4 separate regions of the Homo sapiens genome follow, and all the other regions are linked to region 3. Evidence: fine-mapped expression QTL. A gene starts in region 3. Each other region holds a variant in brackets. All regions are shown on one strand. Distances are between the middles of the regions.

Region 1 (5,146 bases), 78 kb after region 3:
TTACAGGTGTGAGCAACCGCACCTGGCACTCACTTCTTAAAAGAAAAGAAAAGAAAAGATTGCAGAAATATCTAAATCTAAAGTAGAGGAAGAAAACCAGCCCCCATCCCAGTCCCAGACATACCGTATTGTATGATAAGCTCAAACTACACAGACTGACCTGCACCTCATTTCTTCAAGGAGATGTCTTTGAAACAAAAACTGATCATGTCCCTTCCATGTTTAAATTACTCCCACGGCTTCCTACCACTCTCGGATAAAGTACACTCCTGATCTTGGCTATCAGGCCCTACCAGCCTCTGCTTCAGTCTAGAGCCTCCCCCTCCCAGCCACACTGCCTGCTTTCAGGCTCCTGTCCTCCCTCTTTCTCCACCTCTTTTCTTCTCTTTCTTCCTCTCTTTTCCCTTTTGCTTTTGCACAGGTGGAGCCCCTGTCCCACCTGGAGTGCTGTTCACCTGGTGACCTTCTGCTCCCCTTTCAGATCCCAAATGACTTCCTCTGAGAGGCCTTCTCAGATCCCCCTGCTTGTGGAAAGCCTTGCTTCCTCTTGTCACAGCTGCAATTTTAAATTCACATCTGACTCTTGTGTCTTGCTTCCCAAAACCATCCAGTTCAAGACTAAACAATTTAAGGGGGCAGAGCTCTGTTTTGCTCAGTATCCTCTCCCAGTGCCTGGTACATTGTGGATGCTCAATAAATACTTGGATGTATGGACATAGTAAGTACTAATTATCTGATTGCTTACATGGGCCAGCACAATGCTGGGCATGGGGGAACTCAGGGGATTAACACAACAAGGGCAGGTTCTCAAAGGCTGGGGGTTAGCAAGCCAGGGATGAGGCAGGCAGGGGTTTGGGTAAGTGCTAGAATGTGATGTCAAATGGTTACAAGGGCATGGCTTTCAAGGTCCTTTTGTGATGTTGTTAAGTCATTGCCTGATTGTCTTCTCTACTGTTCCTGTTAAACACAGGCCCCTGGAGAAGGGAGTCTTTGCTTCTACTTTTCTTTCCTACTTCCTTGCAGCCCATGGCCTCCGTCTTAGCACTTAGGCCAGGCCAGAGGTCTACAGAATGTGTGTATTAAAATACTGGATGGATGGATGGGTGGATGGATGGATGGATGGATGGGTGGGTGGATGGATGGATGGATGGATGGGTGGATGGATAGATGGATGGATGGATGGATAGATGGATGGATGGTTGGATGGATGGATGGATGGATGGATGGATGGATGGATGGATGAAAGAGCTAAAAAAGCTAGCAGGGCCTCAGAGATCCTTTATTCTCACTCTGATTTTTCAAATGAGAAACTGAAGTGTAAGAGAGGTGGAGTACATCCTTAGTCACTTCCTCTCTTTGAGAACTTATATTGATTTTTTTTCTTTTCAGTCTATAAACATGTTGAAATATCCTTCACTCTAAACAAAACAAAACAAAACACCTCTTTCTCTCTTCCCTACAACCTTTCCCTTGAGCTAGGACTTCCCCCTTTCCTTTCACTGCCAAACTTCTTGAAGATCTTACAAAATTCACCCACTGGACTTCCTCATCTCCCATTATCCCTGGACCTCTAGCTTTTGGCTTCTGTCCACATCACCATGGCAACAGCTCTGAAGTTGCCACTCACCAGAGACCTTCTAGGCCTGGAGCCCTTCCTTGGCCCAGGTAGTGTTTGGCACTGTCGCCACATGTTCTCTGAACCCCAGAGGCACTGCTCTGCACAGGGGCCACTCTTCCTGTCCAGAAGGCTGCTCTCTTCTGGGACCTTTAATGGCACCTCTTCCTTCTAGCACCTTCCACCACAGCTCTGGCCTCAGCCCCTTCTTTGCTCTCATTCTGTATTCTCTCAACATTACTGAGTGCCTCTGGGTGCCTGGTGCCATTCCAGGCTGTTGGCTGCATTACCTTGTGTAATCCTTACGCTGACCCTCTGACACAGGTGTATTAGTGTCACCCATGCTTTACAAGTAGAGAAGCTGAGAAGCAGTGAAGATAAGTCAATCACTCAATCCTACACAGTTGGTAAGTGGCATCTTTGGGACTCGAATAAAATCTTGCTGTTTTCAAGCCTGTACTCTTGGCTGCGAAGCCACAACTTTTTCTTAGCAGTCTCAGCCACACTCAGGCCTCGCATCTCTTTTTACAACTCTCAAGTTAGTATTTTTAAAAGGAACCTCCCTTTGGAATGCCAGGTTTGCTCTTCCAAAGTCCTGGTGAAATTTGTTCTTAGATATCCCTTTAAAATCTCCAAGCCAGACTCCTCAGGTCTTTTGCTCTCTTGATCTAGGGGCAAATCCTTCCCTGCCACCCTCAGGCTCACCTGCATTGTCAGCCCCCATCCCTGCCCCTTGCCCAGTCTGCCATGATCTCCTCCTGTCTCCTCTTGCGTCTGACCTCCTCTCTGTGTGTTCTGAAACAGTCTGGTGCTCCCTGCAGTTCCTTCTCTGCTGAGAGAGGACCCTCCCTGGATTCCCTTCCTTCATTTCCCTTTGACCACTAGAAATCCTTCGTATCTAGAAAATAGGCGGACAGGAAATGTTTTAAACATCAACAGTGGTTACCTCCAGATGAGGGGGATCCAGGTGACTTATTTTCACATCTGTTCAGTATTTTCCAAATTTCCTATAATGAGGATGTTTTACTTTATAATCAGAAAAGAACTTGTTAAGATAATTTCAGAAATTAATCTTATTCATCTGCCCTGCCCACTTCCTCTTTGAACCCCGTCTGTAGCCTGGTTCACGTGACACCTCCTTCAGGTCCCACTGG[G/T]GCTGCCTTGGCTACTTGAGAGCTGGGCATTTGTTCACACACGATGATCCGCTTGGTCCCTGCAGCCTCCTCCAGTGCCCTGGGTGTACCGGGGCACCCCACAAATGCAGGAGAAGTAGTTAAAATAGACATATTCAAAAGAATATTCATCAAAGAAGTAAGAGACTGGAGACCCTTTAAATGTCTATCCAGAGAGGCCTTGTTAAATAGCACATGGGAGGTCTGGGGGCTTGCCTATACCCCTTAGAAAGAAAGACATAGTGTGTAGTAAACCACCATGGCACACATTTACCTATGTAATAAACCTGCCCAGCCGGGCGCAGTGGCTCACGCCTGTAATCCTAGCACTTTGGGAGGCCAACGCAGATGGATCACAAGGTCAGAAGTTTGAGACCAGCCTGGCCAATATGGTGAAACCCCATCTCTACTAAAAATACAAAAATTAGCCGGACGTGGTGGTGGGCGTCTGTAATCCCAGCTACTCAGGAAGCTGAGGCAGGAGAATCACTTGAACCCAGGAGGCAGAGGTTGCAGTGAGCCGAGATCGCGCCACTGCACTCCAGCCTGGGCGAAAGAGCGAAACTCCATCTCAAAAAAAAAAAAAAAAGAAAAGAAAAGAAAACCTACACATCCTGCACATGTACCCCTGAACTTAAAATAAAAGTTGAAAAAAAAGAAAGTCATAGATCCCAGCTGCCAATATGAACCAACTTCCAAAAGATGGTATTAAATTAAAAAAAAAAAATCCAGTAAAATGTACATAGAATGTTCCTATTTATTTAAAAAATAAAAGGATAGCCACATACACACACATATATGTATGTATAGATACCTAGAAGAACTTTTTGGAAGGATATCCTCAAACTGGTAAGAGCAATTGCTTTGGGAAAGGGATGGGGGACAGGGGAGCTGGATAAAAAACATCAGAGGAGGTATGAGCATTGTTTCTGTTCAGTTTAAAAAACTGTTTGCATTTACCTTTAAAAGAAGAATACAACCAAAGGGGCTGGGCGTGGTGACTCATGCCTGTGTCCCAGCACTTTAGGAGGCCGAGGCAGGAGGATGGCTTGAGCCTAGGAGTTCAAGACCATCCTGGGCAACAAGCTGAGACCCTTATCTCTACAAATTTTTAAATATTAGCTGGGCGTGTTGCTCAGGAGTTCGAGGCAGGAGAATCGCTTGAACTCGGGAGGCAGAGGTTGCAGTGAGCCAAGATCACACCATTGCACCCCAGCCTGGATGACAAGAGGGAAATGCCATCTCAAAAAAAAAAAAAAAATTAGCTGGGTGTGGTGGCAGGTGACTGTAGACTCAGCTACTCAGGGGGCTAAGGTGAATGGATCGCTTGAACCTGGGAGGTCAAGACTGCAGTGAGCTGTGATCATGCCATTGCACTCCAGCCTGAGTGACGGAGCACGATCTTGTCTCCAAAAAACAAACAAACAAAAAAATACAAAAAAAGAAAAACAACAAAAAGCAACTTACGATTGGTAGGTGCGTAACCTACCCAGAAGCCCACAGCCATGAAGTGGGAGGACCCCCAGGCACTTTGTACCACTTCTGAGGCCTCCTCTCTCCCCTTTCCCTTCTAATGGTTCCTTCCCGGGGCAGGGGGATACCAAACAAAATCCCCCCAATCCATCCCTGCAGCTGGAGTCTGGGCCCTATTCCAACAAGGACCCTTGTGCACTGAGGCCCCGTGAGATGGTCCCCAGCAGGAACCCCAGGCTGAGTTAGGGACAGATTCCCCCAGCTCACCGTGTGCCCTCTCCTAGGGGAAATAACTCCTCCCCAAAGCAGGCTGGTCACCGCAGGTTTGTTGGCACAGGCTGATGTGCTGCGCCCTTGCTGGGCACTCTTCTCAGGGTGGAGAGCACCAGCTGACATCAAGGTGGTGACTCAGCACCTTAGCAGCTCCTCCTCCAGAGGAAAAAGCCTTGCTGGCACGTGCTGGGCATGATGGGTGGGATGTGGTGGGAAAGACAGCCTGGCCTGGCCTGGCTTCTCCACCGGTGGGGATACTGTGGGCTTGGCCTTGGCCAGAGGGCTCTGGGCATCATTTATCTCCCCCTGCATTCAGGTCCTCCCTTAGGGGGCAGAGATTGGACTGGGCATAGCCTTGCAGGCTGCCAGCCAGGGAGGAAATTGTCCTCAGCATAATAATAATTTATACATCTTTATAGCCTCTTATCTGCAGATCTCAAAGCACTGAAAAGCTCAGATATTGTTTGTGGAGTGAGAATTTGCCTGGACCAAGAGCTCTGCAGCCCAAGTCAAGACCAGCTGAAGCCCTCTTGCTCACAACTGGGGCTCACACACTCGCTACCTTACTCACCCAGGCCTGGGGGCCTGGCTTTGTCCCTGCCACGCCCCTGCT
Region 2 (5,146 bases), 71 kb after region 3:
ATGCACCAGGGCAGGTAAAAGCCAAGCACTCAGCGAGTGCAGAGAAAGAAGAGATTCATGCTTACTGGGGACTGGCGGGGGAGGCTCCAAAGCAGGCGGTAACATTTGAGCTGGACCCTGGTGGAGGAATTCAACTTTGACATTCAGAGAAGGAAGGGAGGGAAGGGAGAGAATACCAGGCAGAGAATGCAGCATGAGGGGAGCCACTGAGATGGGGAGAACATATAGTAGGAAGAGTGAGTGGGCTGATGTGGTCACAGCATGGGGTGTAGAAAGGGACACGGGAGTGATGACGCAGGAGAGGGCAGCTGGGGACTCTTTACTGGGTGCTCACTGGAAAATAGCCAGAAGTCTGAATGGGGCATTGGCTTTAAGAAGGTAACCCTGGTGACAGGTGACAGGGCTGGGTGGATTAGAGAGATGGTAGCTGGGTTAGGAGATGACTAGATCCAGCCAGGCAAGAACAGTGAGTCACTCTACTTCTCTGGATCAGTTTGTTCCTCTCTAAAATGTAGATAATTATCCCTCCCTGACATCTGTCCCAGGCTGTGGTGAAGATGAAAGAAAAAGGGAGATGGGAAACAGTGTTGGTGAGCCCCAGGGGACAGAGGGAGGGCTTTGCAGGTAAGGGTCAGAATTGGGAAGCTGGAGGCTGTGTGACAATGATGTGCCCTGGCTGGTGACCCCAGTGGCATGGCTACAAGACACAGCAGCATCCAAACAAGATACAGGCCAAGCATAGGAGGGGTTTCAGTTCCCAGGAGGCATCTGCATCTGAACTCAAATTGAGAGAGAATGAGAAACCCCTCCAAACCTACCTGAAGCGGGACTACAAACTTAGCTGCTTCCCCATTTGAAGGGGTTCTAATGGGTGGAATTCTGTTTCCTAAAGGGCCTCAGCGGCACCTGTCCTGAGTCAGCATCTCACAGAGGTTTTGCCAGCGCCAGCCACATCTCCAGCATGAAGGTGATTGTCTGAGTGTGTCCAGTCCAGTTCCTGCCTTAATAAAAATCACTGCTGCAAGGGAGAGGGCTGCCAAGGCCCTGCCTCCCTCCAACCCCATCCTAGCCTGAGTCTTAACCATTCTTCCAATCCAGTTCCACTTTGGGCCAGTGCTTAACCCAGGGTAGCACTTTTGAGCCTCGCAACTCTTGGGAGTGAGTTTTCATCCTAACGTTCTCAGATGAGGAAATTGGGCCTCAAAGAGTCCACACAGGTGAGGCACCATGGCTCATGCCTATAATCCTAACACTTTGGGAGGCCAAGGCAGGAGGAATGCTTGAGCCCAGGAGTTCAAGACCAGCCTGGGCAACATGGTGACACCCTGTCTCTATAAAAAAATACAACAATTAGGCAAACGTGGTGGCATGCACCTGTCATCCCAGCTACCTGGGAGGCTGAGGTGGGAGGATTGCTTGAGCCCAGGAGGCTGAGGCTGCAGTGAGCCATGATCCTGCCAGTACACTCCAGCCTGGGTGACAGAACAAGACCCTGTCTCAAAAACAAAACAAAACAAAAACAAAAACAAAGCATCCACACAACTAGCAGGTGAAAAACTGGGGTTCAAACTCAGGCCTATAACACTAAGGGCTGGGCCTGTCCCCACCAAATCAGTCTTTCCTCAGACAGGCTGAGGTGTCCTCTATAGACCAAATATCTGGAGGTCAGAACACTGAGACACTAGTTATGTAAAGGCAGGGTGTGAGTTGGTGAGCTCATCGAGAAAATGCTTCCTGGGCTGGGTGCAGTGGCTCACACCTGTAATCCCAGCACTTTGGGAGGCTGAGGTGGACAGATCACCTCAAGTCAGGAGTTCAAGACCAGCCTGGCCAACATGCTGAAACTCTGTCTCTACTAAAAAATACAAAAATTTGCCAAGCGCAGTGGCACATGCCTGTAATACTAGCTCCTCGGGAGGCTGAGGCAGGAGAACCGCTTGAACCCAGGAGGCAGAGGTTGCAGTGAGCCAAGATTGCACCACTGAACTCTAGCCTGGGTGACAGAGCAAAACTCTGTCTCAAAAAAAAAAAAAGAAAAGAGAAAAAAGAAAGAGAGAGAAAGAAAGAGAGAGAGAAAGAGAAAGAAAGAAAAAGAAAGAAAGAAAAGAAAGAAAGAAAGAAAGAAAGAAAGAAAGAAAGGAAGGAAGGAAGAAAGAAAGGAAAGAAAGAAAGAAAGAAAGAAAGAAAGAAAGAAAGAAAGAAAGAAAGAAAGAGAAAGAAAGAAAGGAAGGAAGGAAAAAAGAAAGAAAGAAAGAAAGAAAGAAAGAAAGAAAGAAAGAAAGAAAGAAAGAAAGAAAGAAAGAAAGAAAGGAAGGAAGGAAGGAGAAAATGCTTCCTGGAGAAGACAGGAGGACGGAACAGGCAGGCCAGTCAAGGCCTGGGCTGCTCTGGGCCCAAGCTCTGGGCTTTCTCAGTTCCCAAGAGAGTGGCTTTTCCAGAGAGACACAGTCCTGACCCAGGCCTGGGCCTATGGCAGTAAGTCCAGTTCCCTCTTCCTACTCAGATTCTCCCAGGGTCTCTGGATTCCTTTCAATAGGACCCCCATGGGAGAGGGGACAAGGCCTGAGTCTTGAGAATCTGGGGAGGGGCTGAGACCCTGGGATCCTCCTCCATGTGTGTGTGTTTGGGCCTCACAGATCTGGAAGAATATACGCTATCCTGAGACCTTTGATGTCTACATAAGCTGCTTGTTCTCACAATAGACAAATGCTACCTTCCTGCCTCTACCCCCGAGGCCCGTGGGTCCTGGTATGGAATGTGTGGGCCTGACTAGCTGGGGATGGGTTCCACTATTCACATTACTCAATGACACACTGGCCTCCTGGTGGAAACTTCCCCATTTAGTGGAGAGACCACACCTTTGTTTTACATTTGTGTAACCCCGACAAAAGGCCGTAGGTCTCCTGGGAGTATGACCTTGGCTGTAGAATGACCAGGCTTCCTTTTCTTCTCCTTTGGTGGTTCTTCTTCTTTTTAACCCTTCTACCTTCTCCTGCCCTCACCGGTTCCAAATGAGGTC[A/T]CCATTCCAATGACGTCTCTCCACCAAAGCCTTGCCAAGACCCCACCAGCTTCCCGTTGCATGCCTGACAGAGGAATCCCCACCCGCTGGGCCCTCATTCTCGTAATCACAGCCCACTCCCTCCCCAAATGGGGCCAGAATTGCTCTGTTTGTTTTTGCTTTGGATTTTATTAAATTTTTTATTTTAAGAGAAGTTACACATAAGCATAGATTTCTCAGAAATGTACAAAGTTAGTCATGAACAACTGCAGCCCTGACCCATCTCCAGGGTGGCCACTTTCGACTCTTGAAACGGATTCTTTGGAATGTTCACTTTCATGTCTCTAAATAACATCTCACATAGTTTCTTCTTGATCTGTGTAGTTTTAGGAGTTTTTTCTTGATTTCCTGCCCTGGGAGACCAGGAGTTCTTTTAGCTCCTGTTGCCTCACACCCACCCCCGCCTCTCTCTTCCCAATACAGCCACACCGTAGAGGGTAATTTTGATTATATCGCTATTCTGTGTTGACCTTTTCTGACTATGTAAACACTATGGCTGGCTGAGCCATATGGTAGACTAGGATAATTTTTTCCACCTTTCTTTTAAATCTGGGCAATAACCAGTTCGTGGGCAGCCTCAGACATCACAGCCTAGCAATGGTTTGGTTCATCTGACCCCGGCCACTGACATCACCAAACCAACCCCTTCACTGCTTCTTGAGAAACATCTGTGGTCAGACTAATGGTAACTTTACCAAGAAGACATGGTCCAAAAACTCACTGGTATCTTCTTGCTTTATGTGTCACAAGAGGCCACTGAATGGCTGCTCTGAGGTGGATGCTGAGTCAGAGTGAGTGGTTTGAATTCAGCTTCTGCCCTCTGTGGCTATGTGAACTTCGGCAAGTTACATGTCCCCTGTGAGCTTTGGTTTCTTCATTTGTAAAATGAAATTGAAGGATGGAACCGCCTACTGATTGGGATAAACTGAGATGCACGTGTAATGTACAGAGCACATAGAAAGAATGACAAATGGTGGGCATTATTATTACTACTGGGTTAATTATTCGTAGGGGCTCTTTTAGTGAATATTCCAGAATGAAGAAACAGCATGCTTCAGAAACATTCAGGGTCGGGCACGGTGGCTCACGCCTGTAATTTCAACACTTTGGGAGGCCGAGGAGGGTGGATCACCTGAGGTCAGAAGTTCGAGACCAGCCTGACCAACATGGTGAAACCCCATCTCTACTAAAAATACAAAAAATTAGCTGGGTGTGGTGGCAGACACCTGTAATCCCAGCTACTTGGGAGGCTGAGGTAGGAGAATCCCTTGAATCTGGGAGGCGGACGTTGCAGGTTGCTGAGGTCACGCCATTGCACTCCAGCCTGGGCAACAAGAGCAAAACTCCATCTCAAAAACAGAAACAACAAAAAACCCATTGAGGACTTTTAAAGTAGTTAACAGTCATGTGCCCCATCTCCCTAAGCACACAGCCCACTTGAGCCATCTCCGAAGAGCACAGTCTGTGCCCGGGCACTAAGGAGGGCCTTAGCCAGGCACTGGAGGATGGAGGTGTAGATGGGTGGGATCCCTGGACACAAGGAAAGGGACTGGTCTTCCCCACTCCTCCCTATTCTGTTTTTTTATGGTGTCACTCAATTAATTTGGGTTTACTGGGGACATCGTCCTCCAACAGGGACCTATGTCATGTTAGTCTCAGCTACCTCTGGTTGCACCTTGGAGAGAGTTGACCACCTGACCCCTTCCAGCCCCTTTCATATTTATTTGGGAGGGGGTGTTCATCATATATAGTATGTGCTAATTTTAAGAGATTCAAACAGTGCAGAAGTATAAAAGAAAAAATTTAAGATCTTTTTTCTACCTTAGAGGTAAATGCTGTTAACAGTTTGCCATGTGTCCTTCCAGGATTTTATTTTCCATGCTTTAAATGTGCATGGGGGACCGTGCGCCATGGCTCACACCTGTCATCACAGCACTTTGGGAGGCCGAGGCAGGTGGATCACTTGAGCCCAAGAGTTCTAGACCAGCTTGGGAAACATGGTGAAACCTTGTCTCTACTAAACCTATAAAAATCAACTGGGCATGGTGGCACACACCTGTAGTCCCAGCTTCTCAGAAGGCTGAGGTG
Region 3 (5,146 bases):
CAACAATTTAAAGTTTAGTAGTGTTATAAGGGTAGGCATGAAGCAATTTCTACTGAAACTTAAAATGCATGTAATTCTTGACCTGGCAATTCTCATGATTTACTGAAAGGCACTGCACACGCAAGAGCACATGGAGAAGGACATCTACCGCATTGCTTGGAGCAGTGAGGCGGGACGCAACCTAATGGTCATTACAGGAGACCGGTTCAATGTGAAACAGACATGTATGATCAGATATGGACAAGTCTCCAAGATCTAGATAGATACAAGAGGCAGGACAGGGACTATACAAAATCAATCTATTTCTAAGATACTTATGAAAAACTATCTAAAGGTAAACAAAAAATAGTTGACGACTGTCTCTGGGGAGTGGAACTGGGTTCTAAGATATGCAGAAGACCCGCTTCTCATCACAGGGCCTTCATGCTGTTCAAATTTTTACCTGTGTATATGTTACCTTCTTTTAAAAAACATTTTAACCCAGTTTTCCTGAGATGTGAGTCTATAGAGCTGCCTACTTTGTGGCGACAACTTCTAAACTGTCAGCAGGGCCAGCTTAGAGAAGCATGGGGAGGAGAGGTGGGACCAGGGAGGGTCTCCTGGAACCTCTTTCATACTACTGAGGCAGAAACTTCTCCAAACCACAGGAGATAAAAACCATATTAGGAAGAGAAAGAAATCAGGAGGCACGCTGAAACCTCTGCAGAGCCAGAGGGCCAACCCTCTATCCCCTGGGGGATAGGCTGTTAGAAGAAGGACGATTACCATCTACCTCTGTTAACTCTCCAACAGGAAATCAACAGGGGACCAGTCAGCAGGAGGTGCTAGCAGAGAGGGGAACTGTCTCCAGAATCTTCCTGGCCCGGACTGTGTGAAACTCAAGTTGCATGGCTTTAAAACAGGCTCCTAACTCGGCGCCGGCTCTCTGCACCGAGCTCTGATCCCCAACACTGTTACATCCCAAGGTGTCCGCGCCAGGGCTGGCACGGCCTTGGGGCCCTGCTGGGGCTAAACCCTCATCTCTACATGTGGGTCAGGTCTCCCCGGGTGTCATTTGAGGTTACAAAGGACTCAAACACAAAGCAGGAGCAGTCATAGGAAGTAACCCAGAAAAAACCAATGCTTTGGATTTTGAGAGTCAATCACCCACCCACCACCAGAAGCCAAAGTTATCTTCCCGGCAGGTGAAATGGGCAGGCCTGTGGCGGTAGCTCCGGGAGGTGTCAAATCAAAGGCCGCAGAATCTCCATACCACCCTGCCCCCGCGCACCTCTATTTCGTGGCTGGCTGGCTGTAGGCTCAGCTCAGGATGGGTCCCAGGGATAATCCTGGGGCGGAGGAAGGAGGAGGTGAAAAGGGTGGAAAGGATGTGAGCTCCAAACTGAGCTAGAGAAAAGACCTAGGAGGGGAGAAGAGGCCGGAGGGAAACAATAAAAAGCAATAAAATGAAATGGAAAGGGAAGGGACTCGCCAGGTCAAAAAGGCAAGGGGGTCGGTGAAGACCACAGCTGGCTAGGCGGGAGGAAGGGGGGCACCACGGCGCCACACCAAGGGAGAGTGGATCGCGACCTGCTGATCCCGCCAGATCAGTCTATCAGGAAGGCCCCGAGCCCTGACCCCAGCGACAGCGGCGAAGCTCGCGTCTGGAAAGGGGGCTCGTGCCCGGCACGAGCCGACGGCCCCCAAACTGCTAAACAGCAGCAGCCCCCGCAGCATAACCAACTCCACCCAGACCACCGGGCAGACCCGCTGCCGGGCGCTTTCGAGGAACGCGGGTGGGGAAGAGGGGGAGCTCTGAGTGCTGACATTTGCAGTGCCCTCCCAAGCGCACAACAAGCCACAGGGTGCAGACTCCTGCAGGTGGTGACTCTCCCGGTCCCAGGGTGTAGGAGGGCGCCCCGGCGCAGGGAGGGGACCCGGGGGCGCCGGAGGGGCGAGCGTGGCAGGGACCCCGAGCGCTCACCTTTGAGGAAGTAGACCCGCGGGCCGGCGGGTAGGCAAGCGAGTAGCGAGGTGAGGACGACACGCGCGGCGCTCTCCTCTCGCAGCTTCTGCCAGTGGCGGCTGCCCTGGTCCAGCACCACCACGGCCGCGACGCCGCCGCCGCCCTCCTGCAGGAGCCGCGCGCGCGCCGCCTCGTCGGGCAGCACGTAGCGCGCCGACACCGCGCCGCCCCGGGCCCGCCGCAGCACCACCGAGTTGAGGTTGACGTTGAGCGAGCCGCGCACGTTCGAGGCAGCGAAGGCCAGATAGGGCCGGCAGTCGAGCACCACGCAGCGCGCCGCCGCCTCCTTGCGGAGCATCTTGCGCAGCTGGCGCCCGTCGAGCGACGTGACCTTCATGCCGCCGCCGCCGCCGGCCAGCGGCCCCGCGCCGCGCGCCCCGCGGGTGCCCACGGCCAGGGTGTCCACGGCCAGGGTGTCCGCGGGCGAGGCACGGGAGGGCGACCCGCGGGGCTGCGGCCGCGACGGAGCCCGGCGCCCGAGCGGCGGCGCAACTCCGCGTTCCCGCCCCGCTCGCTCGATAGCCAGCCCGGCCGCTCGCCGCCCTAGAAGCCGGGGATTCCGCCGGCCGCGCAGCGTTTTATGTGAATGAGTGCCGTCCGTGACGCGGCTGCCCATATAAGGCCAAATATGGGTGTTTCCCCGCCCCTCGGGCCGTGGCCACGCCCTGCAGGGGGCGGGGCAGCGGGGGCGAGGGACGCGCGGGGCGGGTGCCGGCGTTAGAGCGAGAGGAAGTGGAAGGCGCCTCTTCGTTCTCTCTTCCGCGCTTCGCTGAGGGACTCACTCGCGCATCACCCGCGGCTGCCGGTCGAGTGTCCCAGGCGCTCCGGGGCCGCGGTGACCCTCGCGGTGCGGACCGAGGAGGAAGCGCCGTGGGGGGCGGGGCGGCGCCGCACGATCCGGCCTTCAGCTTCACGGACGTGGGCTGAGAACCCGCCCGCGCCGCGCTGAGCAGGGCCGAGGGAGCCGGCCAGGGCCCCAGAGGAGTCCGGAACGGATTCCCGTCGCTACCGAGGTCTGCGCGTGTAAGGAGAGGACGTCGGAGATTTGCCTCGAGGGGTGGGGTATAGATGACTGGAGAGGTCAGGCGCGGGTTGGTCATCGCTGAGGCTGGGTGATGGGTGGCCGGATTCGTTATACTGTTTTCTCCACTTTTCTGTATGTTTGATATTTTTCATAATAAAGTTTGTAAAAGTAAAAACGGGGGTTGGGGGTCGGCGGTGAGAATAGCCATTTAATCTTCCTAAATGGATTCTGCCCTCAAAGGATTGACGCTCTTTTCTCTGTCACTCTCCAATAATGATTAGAATAATAAGTTGTATTTTGAGGAGCTGTTTTCTGGTCCCGGGGAGACCCTTGGTGAACTCAGCAGTACCATCAGCATGTATCCCACGATGGAGCTCAGTTCAGCCAACTGTTGTCCAGGTGGCTTCTGGATTTGGGGGATTATCTATGGATCAAGTTTAATCTCAGGCTGTCTGCCCCCACCGGTCCCCAGGGGCTTCAGGCCTCCCACCCCTATTCCTGGGGAAGCAGACACAATTCACCCATTCAGCAAGCATTTATTGAGGGTCAGCCGTGTGCCAGGGCTTTGCTAGCTGCGGGGACACATGGATGGAAACAGGTTTCTGCCCCCAAGCTCACTGCCAACCATTTTATTGTTAGCCTGGCTGGGACTGCTTGATGGAAAACAGTCTGCCCGCACTAGACAAGGGCTTGTTGACAACTGACATAAGGGAATGAGGTTTTCAGAAGGAAGCAGAGATCAAATTTTGAAATCAGATGCAATCAAATCAGACACCAGGACAGCCAGCATTGCCTCTGGGTCACAGATGCATCCACCCAAAGGCGCTGTCCTCGCCTTGCCAGTGGGGTCTTGGTGAAGACGTGATGCGGGGGCCTTCTTTCTTTTTGTGGTTATCTGTGCCAGCCTTCCCTGCAGGCTGCTCTTCCTCTAGCACGTTCTGTTTCTGTTACCGGCTCTTTCCACCCCCGGCATCTCCGCCTAGAGCCACACACATACGCGGAGCACCCACGTGGGCCAGGCTTTGTTTTGGGGCTGGCGGCACCAACGTGAGTAAGACTTATACTCAGCCCCAGCTGCCCCCAGCCCAGAGGGAAGGGGAAGGCCTGTAGTCCGTGGGGAAGAGCGCCCAGTAGGGGTGTGGCAGGGTGGGGCGTGGGCTGGAGAAGGCCTCCCGAGGAGAGGAGAGCTGAGGCCAACTCCGAGGAATGAATTGTAAGCCAGGCTGCGAAGCAGGAGGGGAGATTCCAGGCAGAGGAAACTGCTTGGGGTAAAGAAAACAAAAAACGCAACCCCCCCAGCATGGTGCGTACTGGAGGTATGTGGGAGACTAAGGCCCTTCTGGTATTTATTAGCAGATTAAGCAGGGTCAGGCAACAGAGGGCCTTGTGCTGTTTTGAGTCATTTGGGTCTTAGTCTTTGGCCGGGCAGTCCCCAACGAGGGATCTTACTCAGTGACAAGATCCGGATAGCATTTGGGAACATCGCTGAGGCGGCTCTGTGCGGGATCGGTGCTTTATTTGAGAGTGGTGGTGGGGTCCGGAGTCTGGGGGATGGATGGGAGGATTTCATGGGTAATCTAGACATGAGCTGATATGGACTTGCCAGAACTTGGCAGTGACAGCAGCTATGGGGAGGCCATAGGAATGGGAGCACATTGAGGAAGTGAGATGCTGGGAGGGGTGAGATGGGGAGAGAGAACTGGAGAGGGACACCAAAGATTTTTTTGTTTCCGGATTTTTTTTTTTTAGATAGGTTCTCGGGCCGGGCGCGGTGGCTCACGCCTGTAATCCTAGCACTTTGGGAGGCGGAGGCAGGCGGATCACCTGAGGTCGGGAGTTCGAGACCAGCCTGACCAACATGGAGAAACCCCGTCTCTACTAACAATACAAAAAAATTAGCCGAGCATGGTGGCGCATGCCTATAATCTCAGCTACTTGGGAGGCTGAGGCAGGAGAATCGCTTGAACCTGGGAGGCGGAGGTTGCAGTGAGCCGAGATCGCGCCATTGCACTCCAGCCTGGGCAACAAAAGCGAAACTCGGTCTCAAAAAAAAAAAGCTTGTTCTCACTATGTCGGCCAGGGTGGGCTCAAACTCCTGGCCTCAAGTAATCCTCCCA
Region 4 (5,146 bases), 50 kb after region 3:
TTATTTGTGTTCTGATCTTTATGATTTCTTTTCTTCTGCTAATTTTGGGTTTGGTTTGCTCTTGCTTTTATAGTCTTTGAAGCTGCATTGTTAGATTGTTCATTTGAAGCTTTTCCTCTTTTTCAATGTAGGCACTTTTAGCTATAAACTTCCCTCTTAGTATTGCTTTTGCTGTATCCCATAGGTTTTGTTATGTTGTTTTTCCATTATTATTTGTTTCAAGAAGTTTTTTCATTCCTTTTTTCTTTTTCTTTCTCTCTTTCCTTTCTTTCTTTTTTTCTTTTCTTTTCTTTTCTTTTCTTTTCTTTTCTTTTTTTTTTTTTTTTTTTTGAGATAGGGTCTGGCTCTGCCACCCAGGCTGGAGTGTGGTGGTGTGATCTCGACTCACTGCAACCTTAACATCCCACCTCAGCCCCCTGGGAATACAGGAGGAAATACAGGCATGTGCCATCACACCCAGCTAAGTTTTGTATTTTTTGTAGTGACAGGGTTTTGTCATGTTGCCCAGGCTGGTCTTGAACTCCTGAGCTCAAGGAATTGGCCCACGTAGGCCTCCCAGAGTGCTAGAATTACAGGTGTGAGCCACTACACCCGGCCCAATTTCCTTCTTAATTTCTTCATTGACCCACTGGTCATTCAGCAACAGATTGTTTAATTTCCATATATTGTATAGTTTCCAAAATTCCTTTTGTTATTAATTTCTAGTTTTATTCCATTGTGGTCAGAGTAGATGCTTGATATTATTTTAACTTTTTTGAATGCTTTAAGACTTATTTTGTGACCTAACATATGGTCTATCCTTGAGAATGATCCATGTGCTGAGGAAAAGAATGTATATTCTGCAGCTCTTGCATAAAATGTTCTGTAAATATCTCTTAGATCCATTTGGTCTATAGTGCAGATTAAGTCTGATTTTTCTTTGTTGATTTTCTGTCTGGAAGATCTGTCCAATGCTGAAAGTGGTGTTGAAGTCTCCAGCTATTATTGTATTGGGGTCTATCTCTGTTTTTAGCTCTAATAATATTTCCTTTATATGTTTAGGTGCTCCAGTGTTGGGTGCATATACATTTTAAATTGTTGTATCCTCTTGCTAAATTGACCCCTTTATCATTATATAGTGGTCTTCTTTGTCTCTTATAGTTTTTGTCTGATATAAGTATAGTGACTCCTGCTCTTTTTGGTTTCCATTGGCATGGAATATCTTTTTCCATCTCTTTATTTTCAGTCTGTCTGTGTCTTTATAGGTGAAGTGTGTTTCTTGCAGGCAGTAGATCAATGGGTCTTGTTTTTACATCCATTCCAGCAATCTGTGTCTTTTGATTGGAGAGTTTAGTCCATTTACATTCAGTGTTATTATTGAAAGTAGGGACTTACTCCTGCCATTTTGTTATTTGCTTTCTGGTTGTTTTCTGGTTTTCTCTTCTTTCTTTCCTTCCTGTCTTCTTCTACTGAAGATGATTTTCTCTGGTGATATGATTTAGTTTCTTACTTTTTATTTTTTGTGTATCCATTGCATGTTTCTTGGTTTGAGGTCACCATGAGGCTTGCAAATACTTTCTTGCATGATTTTTAACTTTGTTTCATCAGTTATATTTACATCTGTGAGAGCTACCACAAACTGAAGGTACTTTTTCATCAGAGTGGTTTGGTCAACCACCACGGCTCCTTGTGTTGCAACAAATGCCATTTTTCTTTTGAGCTGGTTTGTTTCTCGAGAAAAGTATCAGGTCCGTGAGTTCAGTCAGCCCCAACCTCAGTGGCCTGGCTCCCACAGCCCTATCCTGTGACTGCCTGCTGAGCCCTCACCTCTGTTGCTGCTCCACCTTGCACAGTCCCACCCCATACAAGAGTTCATTTCTTAAAAGGACATTGTCAGGATTAAATTAGTTTCTATATTTAAGTGTCTCAGAAAAGTGCCTGACACATAGAAATAGCTCAATACGGGTTAAATATTATCAATATTCTCCCACCCCTACTTAGGGTCTCTTCTGTACAAAGGATCTCATTGCAATATGAGTGAGGAGGTCAAACATCATTCGGTAATGTTCTGGTCTAGGACAAAATTTAGAACTGAGTAATTTTTGGCAAGTAGTTTAATATCTTTGAACCTCAACTATGTCTTCCATTAAAAACAGATTTCTAGTTACCTTTTAGGGTTCATGTGAGAGCTCAGTAAGAAAATGGTTGGTTAAGGCAGTTATGCCTACATTAAGCTATTTTGCCTACCACAATGGTAAAAATTATGTACACATTTTAAAGATTTGCATTAAGATTAAAACCAAAAAAGGGTTTCTGCAGCTCATCTCCACTTAAGTGGGAATTTCTGGGGACCAAGACCACTCTCATCCCTAGTCCCTATTTCCTGACCTCTCCAGATCTGCCCACATGGCCTCTTTGGCATCTTGACAAAAGCACTCATTGGGATGAGGTTCTTTGTTGCAGTTGCCTGTGGACACAGATGGTCTTTTCCAGCCAAAGAAAGACAGGAGAAGCGCAGGCCCATGTGTGGCTGCATTGGTTTGCAACAAACAAGATTCATTCATTTGGTCCTTCATGCATTCTTTTTCTTTTTTTTTCTTTTTTAAAATAAGACAGGGATCTCACTATGTTCCCCAGGCTGGTCTCCAACTCCTGGGCTCAAGTAATCCTCCTGCCTCAGTCTTTCAAAGTGCTGGGATTACAGGCGTGAGCTACTGACCCTGGCCATACTTTCTTTCATTCAATAAATATTTATCAGTGGCTTACTCTGTGCCAGGCATGTGTGAGGACCTACGGTTCAGAGGTGAACAAGGGAGATATGTCTCATGAAACTTACATTTTAATTGGGGTGGTGGGTGACAATGGTTGAGGAATCAAGTCATATCTTTGGAAACTGGTAAGTATTAAAAAGAAAAATAAAACAAGGCAATGCTGAGAGAGAGGCTCTAGAGATAGGGGAAGAGAAATGGCAACAAATTGGA[C/T]GGAGTGGTCAGGGAAGGCCTCAAAGAGGAAGTGACTCAGGCAGCATCTGCTGTGAGACAGGAATCTGGCTCTGCAGCAACATGGGAACACAGCATTCTTGGCACAGATGCCCTGGGATGGGAATGAGGAGGCCAGAGTGCCAGGAGCTTTGTGGAAGAGGCAGGCAGAAGCCGAATCTTGGGACCATCCTTTCTCACCTTGCATGGCCCAACAAGTCTGTGTAGGGCCTTTTCCAGGAAGGCAGAGCCTACCCCTAGCTGACTCTGTGTCCCTTCCTGTGGTTGCCTCACTGGTCCAGTCTCACTAGTCCCTCTGGCTCCCTCTGGCTACTTCCGGCTTCCTCTGGCAACAGACTACTGGGGGAGATAAGTGAGAATTGCAACATGCTCTCTCATTACCCTCAAGGAACTAGAAAGATAGAATCTCTACGGACCCCACAAGACGACTGATACTACAGACTAGACAAGAGCACCAGGTGAGGGCTGAGGGGAAGTTTTGGGAGGTGTGCATGACCACTGAGAATGGAGGGTGGAGGTGTCAGAGAAGTGAGAAGAGCTCAGCCTGGACAGAGGGTAAGAACGAGCTGGAGATGGGGTGTGGATGGCAGTCCACATAGGAGGAAGGTAGAGCAAAGGAGTCCTCATGGGAAGGAAAGGACTAGGCAATCATACTCAGATCAGTTTGTCTCGCCCTTGGGCTGAGCCACTAGAAATGGAAGAGAAGCTTGGAAAAGGCGAAGGAGACACTCAGCCTTGGGAAAGTAGTCAGCGAAGTGGCATGGAGCATTCTGGACACAAATGCCCAAAGACAGGAATGAGGACTCTGGAGCTACACTACTTGGGTTCAAATTTGAATTCTGTTGCTTACTAATGCTGGGACCTTGACAAGTTACTTAACCCTTCTGTGACTCAGTTTCTCCATCTGTAAAACAGTGATCATAACAGTACCAAATTCATTTTATAAAGTTTAAATGAGTGAATAGTTGCAAAGCACTTAGAATAAATAGTACCTGGCCCAGAATGATGTAAGTGTTGGCTAAATTAAATGAATGCTGGTGAGCAAGTGAGACTCTCATTCTGAAGCCAATGGGAAGCTCTCAGATGTTTCTGGGCTGTGCCATGCATGGAGGAAAAGAGTGCTCTGCTCTAATTCATCTGGTGCAGGCTGGATTGGAGGTGGACGGCCTGGGATCAGGAAAACAAGTTAGGAGTCTACTGCAATAGCCCAGACATGAACACTGATTGGCTGGTAGCAGGGCTGCTGGGGAGAATAGAGGGGATGGAAGGCTGGAGGTTGCTGCCGAAGGAAGTGCTCCTAACATCTGGTGTCTGGAGACGGGACTGGGGGTAGTGGGGTACAGATGGAGGAAATGGAGGCCTTGAGCTTGAGTGATGGGGCGAATGTGGGGCTATGTCAGAGAGGGAAGCTGGAAAAGTCATCTGGTTTGGAGGAAGATGGTGCCAACACATGGACGTGTGTTGCCTTTGAGGCCATGGTGTGCCCACAGTGTTCTGGGTGTGATTTCATATCCTGGGTCTGAGGAAAGGAATCCTAGGGGGTTGGATTCTGGCTCCTAGAGAGATGTGAGAACGAGAGTTTCAGCCCTGGCCTCTGCTCACCTGTACACCTGCACGTGTTTGGAGGAGGGTAGGTAGGCTGGGGACAGGCAGTAAATATTTAATGAGGCTGAGTCCACACATCCTCTGCATACTGTATTAAAAGGGCAGTCAGGAAAGGAAGACCCTGCTTGTGTCCACCACTCCCAGACACTCGGTAGTGACAGTGGTCAGTGCTCTCCTTACCCTCACCCCATTGCAGGGGAGAGGATCTCACAACTCAGCCCAAGGCTGACCACACTCCTCCGACTCTCACCTGGATAAGGGTCCCAGCTGGGGTCCAGGGACAGTGGTTGGGACCAATAGTATTTGACTACTGGTTTCTGTTAACAAGTGTTGACTGGGTACCTGCTTCGGGATCCAGTGAGCACAAAATGTCCACTAACCAATGGATTTTTTGAGCATCTCCTCTGTTCAAGCTCTGTATAAGGCACGGGGCTCAAAGTAAAATTAAATGCTTGGTTCCAGAAACCGCATTAGCCTAGGTTTTTGTTTTCCATTTTTAATTATTAATGACAGTAGCTTCAATATAGATATCAGAGGAATGTATCCTTCTAGTCATGAAAATC

Evidence for each region.
Region 1: its variant is fine-mapped to the expression of DUSP5 in whole blood (TOPMed, PIP above 0.99).
Region 2: its variant is fine-mapped to the expression of DUSP5 in whole blood (INTERVAL, PIP above 0.99).
Region 4: its variant is fine-mapped to the expression of DUSP5 in whole blood (TOPMed, PIP above 0.99).

The regions. Positions count from the first base shown.
Region 1 is chr10:110,417,060-110,422,205 of GRCh38, reverse strand. No RefSeq gene overlaps it. Among named protein-coding and RNA genes, the nearest start is that of DUSP5-DT, 77 kb to the left of the region's middle. RefSeq lists an enhancer at 4,149-4,649. The variant G/T (reference allele first, on the strand shown) is at 2,770.
Region 2 is chr10:110,424,757-110,429,902 of GRCh38, reverse strand. LOC105378482 (a long non-coding RNA gene) reads left to right here. Exons shown (of 4, transcript NR_188210.1): 4 at 893-1,063. Among named protein-coding and RNA genes, the nearest start is that of DUSP5-DT, 69 kb to the left of the region's middle. RefSeq lists enhancers at 395-494, 505-754 and a silencer at 3,831-3,880. The variant A/T (reference allele first, on the strand shown) is at 3,020.
Region 3 is chr10:110,495,318-110,500,463 of GRCh38, reverse strand. It overlaps DUSP5 (dual specificity phosphatase 5), which reads right to left and starts at 2,557. Exons shown (of 4, transcript NM_004419.4): 1 at 1,964-2,557. The coding sequence starts at 2,342. DUSP5-DT (DUSP5 divergent transcript) reads left to right here and starts at 3,982. Exons shown (of 2, transcript NR_187547.1): 1 at 3,982-4,076. RefSeq lists silencers at 1,831-2,100, 2,221-2,280, 2,351-2,490, 2,501-3,030 and an enhancer at 3,512-4,035.
Region 4 is chr10:110,445,385-110,450,530 of GRCh38, reverse strand. It overlaps LOC105378482 (a long non-coding RNA gene), which reads left to right and starts at 3,095. Exons shown (of 4, transcript NR_188210.1): 1 at 3,095-3,436. The variant C/T (reference allele first, on the strand shown) is at 2,961.